2 separate regions of the Homo sapiens genome follow, and region 2 is linked to region 1. Evidence: fine-mapped expression QTL. A gene starts in region 1. The other region holds a variant in brackets. All regions are shown on one strand. Distances are from middle to middle. Region 1 holds the start of PIGG (phosphatidylinositol glycan anchor biosynthesis class G (EMM blood group)). Region 2 overlaps PIGG (phosphatidylinositol glycan anchor biosynthesis class G (EMM blood group)).

Region 1 (9,672 bases):
GATAGTCTCTTCTGCTCCCACCCTCAATGTTGCCCCATATTTTCTGGGAGGGGTGGGAGGTGACTTGCCCTTATACCCTTCTGATAATAGAATTGAGTCAAGAATTTCCCTGAGTTTAGCATAGAACCTAAGAGGCCATGGTAATGGGTAACAGATCTCTGTGATTTAGAGTTATACAGCCACCCCAGCCAGCACTGGCATCCTGGAACCTGTGCAATGAAAATAAACGGGAACCTGGGTAACATCAGCAGGTGAAATAATTTTACCGAGACATCTTTAACGATAAATAAATGCAAGTATGAATTATCCAGACTTCTGGAATGCCACAGGGAGGAGCTCGGCAAAATCTCTCTCCCAGGAGCAATAATAAAACTGGATGAAACTGTCAAAAGCAACCATTTTAGTACTTTGGAAATTCACCAAAATTATAGAACAGATTGAGAAGTGCTTATTTAAGAAAAAACACGGAATCTCAGTAAGAACAGCAAGTGCCCATGGTGTTTCTACACAGGGCGGCTCCCACTTCCCTCCTTTCCAGCTCCACGCTGCAGCAGCCACTGAGAAGCCCCACACCCAGGGAGGTTATGAAAACACATCAGGGGTGCTGAAGCACAACCTCTGACCAATCAGTGGCTGACCACTAAGCTATGCGGAGCCAGGGCCAGCACTCAGGAAGACAGGCTTAAAGATAAAAACAAGAACTTAAAAACCAAAAGAACCAAAAGACCTAAGTCAAAACATCAGTTGCCGCACGCTCCCGGGGAGACAGACTGCAGGAACTCACTATACAAACAACCAAAATAACCCTAACAGCCACCAACATTCCTAGGGTGGGGCCAGAATTGAGCTGAGGTGGGGTTTGCCTGGATACACACATTTGTTAAATGCTGTACATGCAAAAATGTAATTGTATAAAAATTATATTTCAATAGTTATTTTTTAAAATGTGAACCTCACCCCAAAATTGTACTCCTTAAAAGGCAGCCAATTACTCTTGGTGAGTATCCTTTTGGACTCTTTTCTGTGTGTGTGTGTGTGTGTGTGTGTGTGTGTGTGTGTGTGTATAAAATCACAAATATATGAAGGTACACATTTTTTACCAAAATGGTAGCAAACTATACAAATTACTCTCAAACTTCTTCAATTAATAACACATCATGAACATCTTTACCTAGGGAAAACACAAGCATTTTATCTTTTTTCCAAACAGCTACAGAGCATTCCAGTGTGTAGCTGTACAATAACGTATTTAACCAAGACCATTTTACTGGGCATTTATTTTAAACAGCTTCCTATGGAAGTGCCACTTGAGCTGAGACCTGAAGGTTGAAAAGTTGTGGAGGTGAGGTGGGACTTTCCAGAGTAAAACACCTGCAAACTGCAAAGGCTCCAGGCAGAAAAGACAGCAGCACCCGGGAGGAAATGAGCTGCGTGTGACCTGTGTGGATGAAGGGCAAGGGAACACGGAAGGGGGCCTATATGAGGATGAAGAGGTAAACGGGAGTGAGGCCACGCAGAGCCTTGAGGGACGGGTGATGGGGTTCAGTGTTCAAACTGGGCAGAGCGTAAACTACTGAAGGGTTTTAAAGAGTAGTGTAGCAGGGTCTGATTTGTGTCCAGAAGTGATTTGGGCCAAGAAAAGGTGCTAGGGCATTTATAACAGTTCAGGCTGGAGCCCACAGCAGCCTGGACGACGGTGGTGGCAGTGGAGATACCAGCTCAGTCAACCTGTATTCACATCCACAGTATTTCAAGAGCACCTGTTCACCTCGTTTCTTGTGCGGGGTAGAGATCATCAATCTTTAAATTTTTACAATATGATAAACAAAAACTGGCATATGGGTTGTTTTGTTTGCCCTGCTCTGATTACTAGTCAAGAATCTCTGCATATGCTTATTGGCCATTCCGCTTTCTTCCTTGGTGGATTCCGTTATATACTCGGCCCAGTTTCCATAGGACTGTCCCTCCTTGATCCGAACCTCTTTATACATCATGGACTTAACATCTTGTATGCCATGTCCACTGTCAATAATTTCTTCAGTTTATCATGTTGTTGACTTTGTTTACAACATTTGACAATATAAAAGTTTTCTGTTTTCATCCCTTCTTTTGTGGCTTTTACAAGGCACCTCCCTCATCCTCACACTAGCTTGGGTTCCCACCGATATTTTTAAAGAGGGTAGGGACTACTTGGCATCCCCTCATCCCAGAAAGCGTGCAGACAGCGAGTGGGCTGCATTTACAGTCCTAAGAAATCTAAGGGAAAGCTCAGGTCTGTCAATCAATGCCAGCTATTATTATGACCAGAAAGTTCTTTAAGAAAGAAAAGGCATTCAAAAATGAGTTACATGACTTTAAAACAAAGCTGCTGCAGGGTCTTAGCAAGTGAAAGCACACTGGACATGTCAGGGTTGGCGTCTGGTTACAAATGTATCAACACCAGGAGATGCTCTGAGCCCTTTCTCAGACTGGAGGCAGGGCAGGGGACACTTTCCTCAACCAACACTGCCCAACCCCAACCTACCAAACTCCAGAGCTGTACAATCCTAACTCCAGTATGGGCTTTCTGTTCTAGCTCCTCCCTGATGGGGAAATAAGGAGCAAGAATCCTCAAAGGACTGAAAATGAAACAAAACACTAGCTCTGGGGTGAGGCTCCCCAGCAAAGGTGAAATAAAACCAATAAGCTGGAGACAGAGGCCCCAAGAACCACAGTGCCAACGGACTGGTCTGAATAGAACCTAGAACCTGCACAATCACTTATACATTTTCTCAAATCTGCCTGTTAAATCTTAAAAGAAAAGGAGAAAAGGGTTCCTTCCACACTTCTGATAGAGCAGATAAAGAAACCGGTGTTCCTGAAAATCAGGGGCTGGATGTCTTTCTTCCAGATTCCCACAGCTAGTTTCAGCAGGACGGCAAAAACTCTGAGTGCTGTGTTCAAAGGTGCCGGGCATGCCCCTCTCCCCTTCATTCTCTCTCACCTCCCTCTCCATTCCTTCCAGAGCAGTTGTCACTGTCTGAAACCATCTTCATTGATTCATATTTTACCGATTTTCTATCCCTCCAATTAGAAAGTAAGCTCCATGAGGACAATGCTGTCTTGTTCTTCACTGCCTCCCTCCTGTCTGGAACAGTGTGGCACACAGTAGATGCTCAATAAATATTGCTGAAGGAAGTCACATCACATTGAAATGCGGCAGAGAGAGTAAGAAATTCAAGGAAAAAGTCAGTGAGTGATATGGCACTGTGCTTCCTTCAGTCTCAGACTGCTTTCATCCAGTGAACATCTGCCAAGCATCTGCAAATGGGGCTGCCCCCAAGCCTTAAATCAATAAGTAGCTCCTTCTCACCAAATAATGTTTCACATGATCAACAACACAGCTAAGGCTCCGTCAGAGACTTTATGCCACGCTCACATGCGATACACTCACACACTTCAACCCCTCTGCTCCTTTCTGTCCCCACCTTTATTCATCCTTCCAGTCTCAGTTTAAATGCAATTTCCTCAGCCAGGCTTTCTCACCCACTAATCATCACATCCTGTTCTTTCTCATCATGCATTAACCACACTTTACAACTGCATGTTTTCATATGCTCCTTTGTTGAGTGGCTGTATATCTAAAGACTAAAAGCTACATGAAGGCAGAGATACTATTTTTTCCCCAATTGCATACCCATTGAAGTATCACCACATAGTCGTTGCTCAAAAGTTTTGAGCCAATCAATAAAGGCTTACTTTTTTCTTTACCCACGGTTCTTGGGAAATGCACTATGTACTTCAAAGCTGCTGTCAGTAGGCTGGACACCTGAAGGATATGGTGGAAACAGTGGTAATTGTTGAGGCCGGAACATACTGATTTGATCATTATGTATACTGGTGGATAATTTTGGAGAAGTCACATTTAACTTATCTGAGTTTGCTTTCCTATCTATAAAGTCTAGAGACTGAACTAGATTAACTCTAAAGGCTCCTTCTAAGATTGTAAATGACCCAGTGACGATTAAAGAAGAAAGCAGGTCACCAAGAATGGCATATCTTGGGGTAGGTTAGCCTGGATGATCTTGCTCTAAATCTTTTATATTTGCCATGAAGCATGAGCTTTGGCTACTTGACATGGGGCACAAATGATGGGTCTCAGTTCCATCCCGTGTGAGGCTCCTTCAACATTCTATTGCCCCAGCCAACTGACAGCACAAAATTTCCACTTTCTTAAAATTGCAACTCCAAGCGAAAGACTACAGAGACCCCCTCTAAATCTTCAAAACAGCCAAACCATGATTCATAAAACATTAAGGCAAACTTACCTTGATTCGAGGCATAGTAACTGTAGGTGGCTTTGCTTCAGCCACAAAACTGTGAGATGCTCCTTTTTCCACAAGGTAAGTTGTGTAGGGCATAAATTTCACACCCTTTGACCCAAACACAAAATCATCTCTCAAGGCATCTATCAGAACAATAACAACTTTACTGAAGAGAGGTGGTGGCAGCGTGGTCCAGTTAGAACTGGCTCCTAAGTGTTTGAAAGAAAAAAAAGGAAATTGAACTCTAAACTTTCCTTAGCATCAAGCACCTTCACAATCTAGCTTCTACCTACTTCTCCAGCACATACCCTGCGATATCTACATAACCCAACCCAAAAGGAGGCGACTTGTACTTGGTAGGTAGTGCTGGGGGGAAAGGACGGGGGTTAACAGGAGTAATCTTAGGGACCCACAGTAGCAAGCAGTGAATTATCCTCAGTATGGTGAAGAGTACTGGGGTAGGAGAATCCCTACGTAAGGGTCCTGGAATGGGACATTTAGGGAGCTTGACCTAAAACGCAGAGCTGCAGCTACGGGATGGCTGGGCGTTTACATACTGCGTTTACATGGTCAGCGGCTGGCGATGTGTGCAAGTGGTCCAGAACCAGGGCGCCTTTACTTGCTGTATATGGCTGGGTAGGTGAAGCCTAGGAAGAGGCCTAACGCAGAGAGGCCTTAGCCCCTAGGCAGGGAAAACATCTTGGAGGAATATAAGAGACCAAAACGCGAGGGGATCGGCAGGGGTCTTATCTGTTGTGTGCTAGGGGGCAAAAAGGGCGCCTATAACGGGGAGTGACCCAAAGGCTGCTCAGGAAAGGGGCGGGAGCTCTGGACGAGTAGAAGTGGAGAGGCTGGATCCCAGGTATGGACACAGCTTACTTTGTGGTGATCAGGAAGGAAGGTCGAAGTGGGGCCAGTAGAGGTGGTTGCCACAAAGTTGTAAGAATACAGAAAAGAGACGCTGGAGCGGTTAAAAAAAATTTCTGAGGTGGGGACCATAATGGAAGAGACCACCGGGGAGCGCCGAGAAGAAATCCGAGCAGCGAGGCTCAGAAAAAAGGTCTTCTAGGGGATGTGGGGTCAGGGGAGCGGAGACGCCGGGGAGGGGTCCGTACCAGCCGAGGGTTCGGGCGCTGGGGGCTCCGCTCCGTGTTCCGCTCTGGCAGAGGAACGAACGGGAGCCGGGAAGAATCCCCGAAGGAAGACCGCGATCCCTAGCACCTCGATCGCTACGCAACAGGTAGCGAAAGTCCCGGAGCCCAGCCGCATCGTGGACACGCTAGGCTGGATGCGGAACCGACCCCACCTGGAGCCTCGCCCTGCTGCAGCCGCGCTTCCGGCTCCAGGTAGCCGCCTCTAAGCAATAACGCCAGGCCTTATCGTCGCAGCGACAGTGGCGTCACGTCCGCCGGCGCGCCACAGCAGCGCGTCACTTCCGCCAGCCCGCCACAGCGGGGCGTCACCTCGGACATACGAACAGCGGGCGGTGTTCCCGGCTCCGTGGGGCCGTCTTCCCGGCGAGTCCGCGACGGTCGCCGCCCACGGCGAGGTACGAGGTTTTAAAAAGTTTTTAATTTGGAAGGCAGGGTGCAGTGGCTCACGCCTTTAATCCCAGTACTTTGGGAGGCCGAGGCGGGCGGATCACGAGGTCAGGAGATCGAGACTATCCTGGCCAACATGGTGAAACCCCGTCTCAACTAAAAATACAAAAAATTAGCGGGGCGTGATGGCGGGTGCCTGTCGTCCCAGCTACTCGGGAGGCCGAGGCAGGAGAATCGCTTGAACCTGGGAGGCGGAGGTTGCAGTGAGCCGAGATCGCGCCACTGCACTTCTGCCTGGCAACAGAGCGAGACTGCGTCTCAAAAAAAAAAAAAAAAAGAAAATTCAACCCAATACCTCAGACAACTGGTAAATATCTTAATGATTAACTTCGTTTTAAAGATGCCACATGAGTGAGATCATGAGGTATTTGTCTTTCTGTGTCTTATTTTGCTTACATGATATCCTCAGGTTTATCCGTGTTGTGGCAAATGATAGGGTTTCATTCTTTTATTAGAGCTGAATAGTACTCCATTGTGTATATATACCACATTTTCTTTTTTCTGAAAGGAAAATCTTGGGGCCCCAAAATTACTAAACTAAGGGAAAAGACAAGCTCGGAACTGCTCAGGACAAACCTGCCTCCCATTCTATTCAAAGTCATTCCTCTGCTCACTGAGATAAATGCATATTGATAGCCTCCTTTGGAGAGGCTTATCAGAAACCCAGAAACTGCAACCATTTGTCTGTCACCTACCTGTGACCTGGAAGCCCCCTCCCTGTTCCAAGTTGCCCCCGCCTTTCTGGACAGAACCAATGTCCTTCTTTTTTTTTTTTTTTTTTTTTTTTTCTTTTTCTTTTCAGATGAAATCTCACTCTGTCGCCCAGGCTGGAATGCAGTGGCGTGATCTCAGATCACTGCAACCTCTGCCTCCCGGGTTCAAGCAATTCTCCTGCCTCAGCCTCCTGAGTAGCTGGGATTACAGGTGCGTGCCACCACGCACGGCTAATTTTTGTATTTTTAGTTGAGACGGGGTTTCACCATGTTGGTCAGGCTGTTCTTGAACTCCTGACCTCGTGATCCGCCCGCCTCGGCCTCCCAGAGTGCTGGGATTTACAGGCATGAGCCACCGCGCCCGGCCTGTTTTTTTTTTGTTGGTTTGTTTTTGAGACGGAGTCTCGCTCTGTCGCCCAGCCTGGAGTGCAGTGGCACCATCTCCGCTCACTGCAAGCTCCGCCTCCCGGGTTCACGCCATTTTCCTACCGCAGCCTCCCGTGTAGCTGGGACTACAGGCGCCCGCCGCCACGCCCGTCAAATTTTTTTTTTTTTTTTGTATTTTTTAGTAGTGACGGGTTTCACCATGTTAGCCAGGATGGTCTCAATCTCCTGACCTCGTGATCCGCCCGCCTCTGTCTCCCAAAGAGCTGGGATTACAGGCGTGAGACACCGCGCCCTGTCCGGCCTGTTATTATACATATGATTGATATCTCGTGACTCCCTAAAATGAATACAACCAAGCTGTGCCCCGACCACCTTGGACCCACGTCGTCAGGATCTCCGGAGGCTGTGTCATGGGCGTCCTTAACTTTGGGAAATAAGCCTCCTGAAATGATTAAGACTTGTCATTTTTCTCGATTGACATTGATAAGCACTGAGAGATCCTCAGTGAAGGTAACCCGGCCTGCAGCAGTTCGCCTATTGATCCTCGGTATTGGCTTGGCACCTTATTGCCCAAACTGGTAGGATGATTGCTGAAATCTGGGACCTTGTTCCTCCAGGGATCCCTGATCTTCCAACGTTTTTCGGTGGGGGGTCTGAGGTTTATTTGCTGTTAAAAAACTCCTTTTTTGGGAGTTCCCACTCGCTTCATCAAGGAAGGCAAGCCTGCCTGCTTCTGCATCGACAGATAGCCGTCTTCAGCTTGAGCCCCATCACTAGGTAAGAAAATTGATTTGGAATTTTGTCTTGCAAATTCTTTTTAAATGACTAAAGATAACATTAACAACCAGCTGGTGTTTATTTCTGCTTACACTTAGAGCGTTCAGAAGTCATAGGCTGGGCGCGGTGGCTCACGCCTGTAATCCCAGCACTTTGGGAGGCCGAGGTGGGCGGATCACGAGGTCAGGAGATCGAGACCATCCTGGCTAACACGGTGAAACCCCATCTCTACTAAAAATACAAAAAATTAGCCGGGCGCGGTGGCGGGCACCTGTAGTCCCAGCTACTCAAAAGGCTGAGGCAGGAGAATGGCGTGAACCCGGGAGGCGGAGCCTGCAGTGAGCCGAGATCGCGCCACTGCACTCCAACCTGGGCGACAGCGAGACTCCGTCTCAAAAAAAAAAAAAAAAAAAAAAAAAGAAGTCATGTATTTTGTGTGATCATTGTTAGTTTTGCTTACCTGTTCTGTTGTTTGTTTCTGTCTTGTTGGGGTTTTTTTTGTGTGTTTTGGTCCTTTCCCTTATCGGATTTGACCAACTCCAAACCCTCTAGCTCATGAGTGTAGAATCTTCCCCTCTGAAGAAATAAGAGCACCTGCCTCCCCTCAGCTTTTCGGGGCATTCTCAGACAACTGAGAATCACGTGAGGGTGTCTGGGAGGAATGCTGCCTAAGACATGCAGTGGGTCTAAATAGGTTTCCCCCCCAGAAGAACATACTTAGAGTCTAATCTCAGCTGGCAGGTGCATATAAGGAGGTGACCCCTCCCGCACCTTGAGCCTCTGACACTGTGCCAGGTGGCCACCACACGGGTGAACCCAACCAGTTCGGGGGGTAACAGCCCTGAAAAGCTAGGTCTGCAAGCAGCACGTTTTGGGTCCGACACACATTCTGACTTGGCGAAATCCGAAGGGGAACTCTAAATTATGGGAACAAGGCCTCTGAAGCGGCTAAATACCCAACCGTCTACCCCCCACACACAAAAAAGGCGGTATGGTTGGGGGAGGAAAACGGCCAGCAAAAGGAAAAAACAGAGAAAAGATTTTTAAATTTTCACTGCTAAAGGGATTTTATTTACATAACAACGCCACCTTTTTGCCAGCCAGACCAAACCGAAAGAGCAATGGCTGTATTTCTGAAAGTAGCATTCTGTCCGGCCGAAATATGGTAATGAGATTTAAAAAGATTTTTTTAAAGGAGCTCAATGGTTAAAAGTCAGCTTAATTTGGCCATGCTCAGTGGCTCACGCCTGTAATCCCAGCATTTTGGGAGGCCGAGGTGGGCAGATCATGAGGTCAAGAGATCAAGACCATCCTGGCCAACATGGTGAAACCCCGTCTCCACTAAAAATACAAAAAATTAGCTGGGCGTGGTGGCGGGCACCTGTAATCCCAGTTACTTGGGGGGCTGAGGCAGGAGAATGGTATGAACCCGGGAGGTGGAGGTTGCAGTGAGCCGAGATCACACGTCACTGCACGCCAGCCTGGTAACAGAGTGAGATTCCGTCTCAAAAAAAAAAGAAGAAATGGCAAACTTCCTCTAAAACTTGCCACACAAAGATTATTTTTCCTTCTCTGTCTGCACCTGAGATCTCACACTCAATTTATCCATTGCTGAAATCTGTGGCAAAGCTACCCCTGATCGAGAGATTCCATCTCAAAAAAAAAAAAAAAGTCAATTTTAAAGGCTAACATCCAAGAATTGGGTGTGTATGTGTGCATGTTTATATTTAGAAGGTTTCATGTTTTTGGTTTTTGTTTTTCTCTCCTAGGACCTTGTCTTTTTTTTTTTTTTTTTGAGCAAAAGTTTTTTTTTTTGTTCAGTTGACTGAATTCTGTTTTCACCTGATTTTTTGACTAAAATAGTTACTGCAACAGGCTGCTCTTGAGTTT
Region 2 (9,672 bases), 40 kb before region 1:
GTGGGGGAGAACTGTGTCTTGTGGTTCAGTGCCAGCACAGCTTGAGTACAATAGAACACCAGGTAGGCTTCCAAGGTTTTTGACCCTAGTTCCTGACAGCACCTCTGGACCATCCAGGGTCTGGGGGAACTCGCTACCCTGAGGAGAAAGACACAGGCCTGGCTGGCTTTGCCAACAGCAGATGGCAGAGCCCCAGGGTGTTGAGTGAACATAGGCAGCAGCCAGGGAGTGGTTACAGACCCAGTGCTGTGCTGCCTTCAGGTCTGACCCAGTGCCGTCAGTGATGTGGCCACAGGGGTGCTTGTGTCACTCCACCCCAGCTTTAGGTGGCTCAGGACAGAGAGACTCCATTTGTTTGGAAGAAAGTAAGGGAAGAAAACAAGAGCTTCTGCCGGGTAATCCAGAGAGTTCTCCTGGATCTTATTCAAGACCATCAAGGTGGTGCACAGTGTTACTGGGCTTGGGGTGCTCCCTAAGGCAGATAGAGCATAGATCACAACACCAAGTCCTTTCAGATACCTGGAAGCCTTCCAAAGGAGGGGTACAAACAAGCTCAGACAGTGAAGACTATAATAAATGTCTACCTCTTCAATGGCCAGACACTGAAGAACATCTACTAGGTTAGTGCAAAAGTAACTGTGGTCTTTACTAGGTTAGTACAAAAGTAACTGTGGTTAGTGCAAAAGTAACTGTGGTCTTTACTAGCATCAATACCATCCAGGAAAACAGGACCTCACCAAACGACCTAAATAAGGCACCAGGAAGCAATCATGGAGAAACGAGATATGTCACCTTCCCGACAAAGAATTCAAAATAGCTGAGGAAACTCAATGAATTTAAGATGACACAGAGAAGGAATTCAGCATTCTATCAGATCAATTTAACATAGAGATTGAAATAATTAAAAAGATTCAAGCAGAGACTCTGGAGCTCAAAAATGCAACTGGCATACTGAAGAATGCATCAGAGTCCTTTAATAACAGACCTGATCAAGAAGAAGGAAGAATTAATAAACTTGAAGACATGCTATTTGAAAATACACGGTCAGGGGAGACAAAAGAAAAAAGAATAAAAAAAAATGAAGCATGTCTACAGGGTCTAGAAAATAGCCTCAAATGGGCAAATCTAAGAGTTATTGGCCTTTAAGAGGAGGTACAGACAGGGGCAGAAAGTTTATTCAAAGGGATAATAACAGAGAACTTCCCAAACATGGAGAAATATATCAATATCCAAGTACCAGCAGGCTATAGAACACCAAGCAGATTTAATCCAAAGAAGACTACCTCAAGGCATTTAATAATCAAACTCCCAAAGATCAAGGATAAAGAAAGCATCCTAAAAGCAGCAAGACAAAATAAACAAATATCCTATAATGGAACTCCAATATGTCTGGTAGCAGACTTTTCAGTGGAAACCTTACAGACCAGGAGAGTGGCATGACATACTTAAAGTGCTGAAAGAAAAAAAGTTTTACCCTAGAATAGTATATCTGGTGAAAATATCCTTCAAACATGGAGGAAAAATAAACTTTCCCCGACAAAAGCTGAGGGATTTCATCAACACTAGACCTGTACTATAAGAAATGCTGAAGGGACTATTTCAGTCAGAAAGAAAAGGGTGTCAATAAGCAATAAGTAATCACTTTGAAGGTACAAAACTCACTGGTGATAGTAAGTACATAGAAAAACACAGAATATCATAACACTCCCACTGTGGTGTGTAATACCCTTATCCTAAGCAGAAAGACTAAACAATGAACCAATAAAAAATAATTTTTCAAGACATAGACAGTACAATTAACATATAAATAGAAACAACAAAAAGCTAAAAAGCAGGGGGACAAAGTTAAGGGGGACAAAGGCAGCTCCAGAATTTCTGCTTGGTGTTTTCTAATTTCGTTAAGGGGACTAATAAAAACTAGAGTTTTTTATTGTTGTCTTTTTGTGTGTTTATGCAAACAGTGCTAACTTGTGACCAGCTTAAAATAATGGGTTATAAGATAGTATCTGCAAGCCTCATGGTAGCCTCAAACCAGAAAACATACAATGGATACACAAAAAATAAAAAGTGAGAAACTAAATAATATCACCAGAGAAAATCACCTTCACTAAAGGAAGACAGGAAGGCAAGAAAGAAGGCCACAAAACAACCAGAAAACAAGTAATATGGCAGGAGTAAATCCTTACTTATAAATAATAATGAATGTAAATGGATTGAACTTTCCAATCAAAAGACATAGAGTGGCCGAATGGATGAAAAATCACTTTACCATGTAATGATCCCTCTAGTGTTTTCCCCTCCAAACATCTTTTGATTGTATTGTCAAAGTTGATCAAGTTATTGGTGTTACAAAAAAAATCCACTTGGTCACAGGGCTCCACTGAGGATAAATGAATTAAAGTATAGCATAAACAATACTTTAAAACAGTATCAATCTTGTCATTGCATTGTCCTATCAATATTCCATAGTTACAGATATGAAGAGGCAGAAACTCTTTGATGTGGACAATCAGCCTTCCAATTGAAACAAGGCTTTGTGTATCCTCTGCCTGAGAAGCTGCCCTTTCTCTGTTAGCTACCAGCTCTCTTAATAGATGTTATAAGAAATTAATTTTAAAAGAATATTGTATATTTCTTGTAGTGAAGAAACATTTATTCAAAATTCAGCCTTTTCTTTGGTTTCACTTTTCCTGTTAAATTAAAAACTTATATAACTACTTTGGATTAAAAAGTTATATATAATATTTATATATAATTTGTATAAATATATATTTATATAAAATATTATTTGTATAAATATTTATATAAATATTTGCATAAATATATATTTATATATTATTTGTATATACATTTATATAAATATTTGCATAAATATATTTATATAAAATATTATTTGCATATATTTATATAAAATATTTGCATATATATTTATATAAAATATTATTTGCATACATATTTATACAAAATATTATTTGCATATATTTATATAAAATATTATTTGCATGAACATATTTATATATTTGCATATATATTTATATAAATATTATCTGTATATATATTTATATATTATTTGTATATATATTTATATAAAATATTTATAAATATATAGTATGATTTTCATGTATGCATCTATGCATCCTCCCTGCTTCTTCCATTTAGTGAACTGTATTCACTAACTGTTAGTGACTGTTTCTTCTGGATGGTGAGATTTTTTTTCTTCACATTTTTATTTTTTTAGAGATGGGCCCTGGCTCTGTTGCCCAGGCTGGAGTGCAACGGTGCAATCCTAACTCACTGCAGCCTTGAACTCTTGGGCTCAAGTGGTCCTCCTGCCTCAGCCTCCTGAGTAGTTGGGACTACAGGCACATACCACTACACCTGGCTAATTTTCAAATTTTTTTTTTAGAGATGGGGTCTCACTACATTGCCCAGGCTGGTCACAAACTCCAGGCTTCAAGCGATCCTCCTGCTTCCCCAACCTCCCAAAGTGCTGGGATTACAAGCGTGAGCCACCATTCACTCTTTAAAGACTTTTCTGATGAGCTCGGTTGTGATATAAATAAGTGATTTTGGTATGGAATAATGAACAACATTTGGAAATTTCTATCATCCAGTGAACTGTTATTTTCCAAACAACAATGCAGATGTTAAGAATCACATCTGGGTAAAAGTTCCATTCAGGGTGCAAGACAGGTCAATGTGTCGTAATGCATCAGGACATGAAAGTTCATTGATATGATTTCAGATTCCACATGGCAGCTAACCTTTTCTTTTTCAAAATAACTTTTGTTTTGAAATAGTTGAAGACTCACAAGAAGTTGCAAAAATAGTATAGAGAGTTCTACATATCCTTCACCCACCTCCCCCCAATGATGGTATCTTACACAACCAGATAAATACCAGGAAAATGATGTGGGCACAATTCTATTAATTCGAATACAGCCCTCAGTAGCATTTCACCAGTTTTTATATGCACTCGTTTCTTTTCTTTTTGTCCAACTAACCTTCAGCAAACTAACATTTGTTGAGTTTTGGTGTTGGCATCAAAAAAGATTTGGTGTTGGTATCAAAAAAGAACATCCACAATAATCAGAAAAAGGACATTAAAATATGCCTCCTCTTTCCAACTACTGATCTGAGGCTGGATTTTCTTCATATATATATAATAATTATTATTTTTTGAGATGGAGTCTCACTCTGTCACCCAGGCTGGAGTGCAATGGCACAATCTTGTCTCACTGCAACCTCTGCCTCCCTGGTTCAAGCGATTCTTCCACCTCAGCCTCCCAAGTAGCTGGGATTACAGGCACCTGTCATCATGCCTGGCTAATTTTTGTATTTTTGTAGAGACAGGGTTTCACCATGTTGGCCAGGCTGGTCTTGAACTCCTGACCTCAGGTGATCTGCCCCCGCCTCAGCCTCCCAAAGTGCTGAGATTACAGGTGTGAGCCACTCTGCCCAGCCGATTTTCTTCTTATATTGTAACCAAACACACATATCACAACAGGTCAAACACAAAATCCAACTAGCTTCAATTAGGCCAGGCATTAAAGAGGTTTGTAAAAATGTAAAACATTATCACTTTTCTCATTAAACATTTATTTTTTCATTTTAAAGACAAGAGTCTCACTCTGTTGTCCTGGCTGGAGTACAGTGGTACAATCATGGCTCACTGCAGCCTTGAACTCGGCTGAAACAATACTCTTTCCTCAGCCACCTGAGTAGCTGGGACCACAGGTGTGTGCCATCACGCCCAGCTAATTTTTTGAAGTTTTTGGAGAGATGAGGGTCTCACTATGTTTCCCAGGCTGATCTCAAACACCTGGGCTCAAGTGATACCCCCACTCTGGCCTCCCAAAGTGCTGGGTCTCACTGAATTTTTTTGTTTTGGAAAATATAGTTACTTTTCCTTCAAGTGTTTCATTAATATGCAATAGATTCCTTATAAATGAATACTTTTTTATCTTAGTTTTCATCTCAAATGCCATAAACACTGATACATGTAACCCTCATAAACCAAAGCGCCTTGGGGCCCTCAGTGGTTTGTAGGATTCTAAGAGCTCTGTGCTCCCTAAGGTAATCTGGGTGCCTCCTCCCACAGAGCTCCTGGACTCTAACAAAGTCCAGAACCTTTTCATTCATTGATTTAAACACACATATTTGGGTCACACCATAGCTTATTCAGAGGAAATTAAAAGTTCAGAAGCTTCTAGAGTGATTGTCAATGGGGGAAAATATGATACAAACTGTATATTAAAGTGATCTTTTATTAAACTATTTACTGCTTAGTCTAAATTCAGGTAGAGCAGTCAAAGAAAGTTATCCATCAACTTTGTTGAATTCATATCTTTCATTTTAGAATAACAGCAGACTTTAAGCATGTATTATTTTTCCAGTGTTCAGCTTAGTCTAAGACTGTGTGAGTCTGGTTTGATCCATTGCCGTGAAGAATACACAGACAGCAGCTGTAATGAGCAGGTGCATTCCCTCGTAGAGAAGTTTTGGAGAAAATACACTCCATATAAATAAATGATAACGCAGAGATGTCACCAAAACGATGTACGTGAAAACTGGAATAGAACAAATCAGTGCGTAGCAGAAGCAAGCATGACTCAGTGCTGAACCACTGTTAATAAGAAAGAAAATGTGTATTAGCACATGCCACTTACATATCACACATGTAACAACACTTTTATTTTCAAAAAGACTCCAGTAGCTCTTGCCCTTGGAGTAGAGGGCACCGCGTTCCTTCTTCTGCACACACATCCAGTCACTATGGTGCTGGGACAGGTGCCTCTCCAGATGCGCTGGAGACGGGAAAACCCAACCTGCCCCCTTGGAGGCTGTGTTCTAGTGAAGGAGGCAGGAGAAACCAGATATGTAACATGTCAGGAAGAGACAAATTCATGAAGAAAAATGAAGCAAACAGAAGGATGGGTGAGGGCCACCATGTCCCCCC[C/A]CACACACACCTTGAGCTCTCCAGAAATGCTTCTGAAACTTGACTGTATGTAAAAATCACCTACAGTATGTGCTGGAAGTGCCACTCTGGAGCCCCCCCTACAGAAATCTGGATGTGGTTGGTCTGGGGTGGGCAGAGGTCTGAGTCTCCAGAAGGCACGGAGGTGCCCGAGGGGACATGAGCTGCAGCCCCAACTGCTCAGCCACTGTCTGCCACCGTCATCTGTAAAACAGCTCTGAAAAACGCACCCCCCAGACTTTGCAGTTATTTAAAAATTATATATGCATGTGCTACTATATCACATGCATTATAAAATACAAACGATGAATAGAAAATCACAAAAGGGTGAGATACAAATAAACATAAATACAAGTTCTGAGCTTTTCTCCCTGCTGTGGTGTGGAGGACTGTCTGGTCTGGGGACACTGGCCCAGCGGGGTTTGCTGAGCAAATTCTCGGAATAAGAGCCACCCCTCGAAGTATGTTAATGTACCCCCTAGTTTTGAAACCACCAACACACTACATAAATCTCTTCCTCAAAGCAACTTCCCTGAGTCTGTGATTATTGAAAAATGATAAATTACATTATTTGGGCACTTTCCATGCCTCATCCATGACCTCTGATCAAGTTCTGTTAGAAAGGGCCCGGAGGCAGCCCCCAGATCCTCAGTCCTGTCGGCACGTGTGTGTGTCTGGGTGTGTGGGTCCCGCTGCATGTCCTGTAAAGGGCCCCTCGGTCCTGTCAGCACGTGTGTGTGGGTGTGTGGGTCCCGCTGCATGTCCTGTAAAGGGCTCCTCAGTCCTGTCGGCACGTATGTGTGTCTGGGCCCCACATGCATGTCCTGTAAAGGGCTCCTCAGTCCTGTCAGCCCAGCAGCTCCACCAGGTATTACTTGAGGGTGTCCTGTAAGTGGCTCCTGCTTCAGTGCTCACTGCTCAGGAAAGGGTGTCAACAGCCACGAAGGGCCAAGGACGGGGCTGTCTCTGGCCCCTCCACAGCCTCACCTCAGCCCCCCACCGGCTCCCCATCTCAGGCCTTGGAGGGGCCCATCCTCCTCTTGGCTTCTCCAAACACTCCTTCACCTCAGCCCGCCATGTGCTCCAGTAAAATACTCAGACCCTGGGATCTCCCGGTGGGTGGCCGGTGCCTCTGGTCCTTTCACTGCTTTCCTTGCCAGGCCCTGGCTCCTTAGGCGGGTCCCCCAAACCCGTACCGCTGGTCACCACTTGGTATCCAGCCCCACAGGCCGGGGACCCCACAGGGAGGTGGACCCCAAGGTATCCTCAATACACCTCCTGGTGACAGCAACACCCAGGAAAAGGTGAACATACTGGGCAGGAAGATTCGTGGCTAAGTGGGCCGTGGCCCCATCCTACCCAGACAGCGCATGGGGAAGCTGTGGCTTAGACATGGCACCACCTTGACTTCAGTTTAACACTTTATAGCGTTACCCACCTAGAAGATGGCGGCTTGCTGTTCCCACCACTTTAGCAAAGAGCCATTTGCGCTGCAGGGGAGCAGGCAGCCCGGGGTGCCAGCCCCTGGAACAGAGGGTCGCCAACCACTCAAGGCCACGTTTTTGACCTTTTGGAAACATATTTTCTCTGTCTACAATTTAGACCTGGTTATAGTTTTCCTACTCTACTGAAACAAAATAGAAACCATGAGTAAAACTTGATGCTTTAAACTTTTAAAAGGGAAGAAGAAAACCCTATAAAATGAAGGAGAAATGCTTCTTGACTAGGAAAAATATCATGATACTCTCCAGTTGATCAAAATGCTTTCACCTCACTTAATATTTGTCTTTTTCCCTCCCAAACACAAACGTGCCTGGCTGTGTAAGAGATGAAAAGTGCCTGGTCCATCAAACCGCAATCTGCAAGCACCAGGGCAGCTGCAAGGCCGAAGACCAAACCTACAGAGAGAGGAGCCGGGCAAGTACTTCCAGCCCTCCGTCTCCAGCTGGCCACTGGGAGGTGTGCCGTCCACCCAACAGGTGCTTGATCACGCCGCGCACAGCTGTAGCACATCCGTTCTCCAGGGCAGAGGCAGATGCACCTCCACGCGCTCACGCCCGCTTGTCCTGACACCTGACCACACGACGTGCTGACAGCCCACCCCAGACGGCCGAGGACGGCGTCTCCTGTTTCTGTAAGGCCAGTGTGAGCACGCGGCTGGCCTCAAAACCAAGTCAGAGAAAGACGTCCCAGGGCAGCTGCTGAGACAGGCGGACGCCGAGCAGGGGTCTCGTGGCAGATGTTTGTTTTTATGCAGAATCGAAGTCTGGAAGGACGTCTCCACACAGCGCCGCCACAGTGGGTGTCTCCCAAGCTGGTCTGTTGGTGGCTTCCGCCCGCAGAGCCTCAGCTTTCTGCTGTGATGACAAGCTCAGCGGTGACTGTAAATTACGGGGGTCTGTCCACAGACTGCCCCAAAGTGGGCGTGTCAAGCGTCCACAGGCACCTGAAGAAAAGGCAGGTGGATCTCAGGCATTCCTGTCCCCGGGAAGCTTGCAGTCTGGCCAGGGAGCGATTCTCCCCTTGGAAAGGCTCCATGTCCGCTGTGGGAAGGCACGCGCCTATCACTGCTGAAGCAAGGCCAATGCTCCCCCGACCCCTTACGGAAACCTGTGAGCGACTGAGGGGTCCAGCCCGGGCCCGCCGAGTCTGCGGGGCACGAACACTTCCACCATGGTGGACGGTTCCTCTGGCTCCGAAGCACTCATGCTGTGAGAGCCTCAACACAGGACGTGAGCGGCGAGGGGCTCCTTTCAGGGTGGGAAAAGCTCAAAGGCAGGCACGGGTGTGCGTGCCTGGGTGCGTGGGCCCTGCCCGCATGTCCTGTAAAGGGCTCCTCAGTCCTGTCAGCCCGAGGACACCTCTGCGGAATGTCGACAGGGGGCTGGGCATCTGGGTCTGGAGGCAAGGCCAAGGGTCCCTGTGGCCTGGGTCTCAGGAGCTGGTCTGGGGAGGGGAGTGAGGCGGGGAGAGGACCTGCGTGGAGCTGAGAGGATGACCTGGTGAAGGAGGCTGTGGAGCAGAAGCCAGAGGGCGGAGCGGGACCACAGAAACGTGCAGATGCTCTGTGGAGTCGCCGGCAGCTCGGCAGGAGAAGCCTCCAAGTGTCCTGGGAGGGCTGGCACGGGGGCTCAGCAGTCAGCACCGCGAGAGCGACGGTTCAGTCATGGGAGGACGTAGGAGCCCTCCAGCCTCACTGCTCAGCGGAGAGGCCACAGCGCGCTCCCTGGGGCTCCCGGCAGGACTGGGGCCTCCGGTCACCACAGGACACACGCAAAGCTCTGGCTGACCTGCCCAAAGCCACCCAGAAAGTGCGGGAGGCTGGTCCAGTCAGTGTCCCAGACGCTCGCCTGCCCGGGAGGAGGCCGGGCCGCGGTGCGCGGTTTCAGCACACGCAGAAATGCATAGGCGCTGCGGGGATTCGTGACTGTGGCTGGCAGCAGGGACAAGCGTGGAGCACGGGGCACTCTAGTAGATGCCGCAGGGGCCACTAGCCCCTCCAAAGGCTGTGAACGCTTCCAAGTGTCCCCCATTGAGCTCCCAGCAACTCCCGTTTTACAGATGGGAAAACCAGGCACATGTGAGTCGAATAACTTTGCAGGCCCTGGGGTCTCTGCCAGACCAAGTTGGGAGGTACAGAATCACCCACCCCCGCCACACTCCACTCAGCACCTGACTCCGCCAGGCCAGGCACT

Evidence for each region. PIP is the estimated chance that this variant, and not a neighbour inherited with it, causes the effect.
Region 2: its variant is fine-mapped to the expression of PIGG in whole blood (TOPMed, PIP above 0.99).

Annotation. Positions count from the first base shown.
Region 1 is chr4:495,237-504,908 of GRCh38, reverse strand. PIGG (phosphatidylinositol glycan anchor biosynthesis class G (EMM blood group)) reads right to left here and starts at 5,699. Exons shown (of 13, transcript NM_001127178.3): 1 at 5,420-5,699; 2 at 4,308-4,513. The coding sequence starts at 5,573. ZNF721 (zinc finger protein 721) reads left to right here and starts at 5,753. Exons shown (of 3, transcript NM_133474.4): 1 at 5,753-5,853. RefSeq lists enhancers at 4,738-5,601, 5,559-6,038, 5,602-6,467.
Region 2 is chr4:535,107-544,778 of GRCh38, reverse strand. PIGG (phosphatidylinositol glycan anchor biosynthesis class G (EMM blood group)) reads right to left here. Exons shown (of 13, transcript NM_001127178.3): 13 at 4,579-5,626. The coding sequence ends at 5,410. Among named protein-coding and RNA genes, the nearest start is that of TMEM271, 36 kb to the left of the region's middle. The variant C/A (reference allele first, on the strand shown) is at 5,960.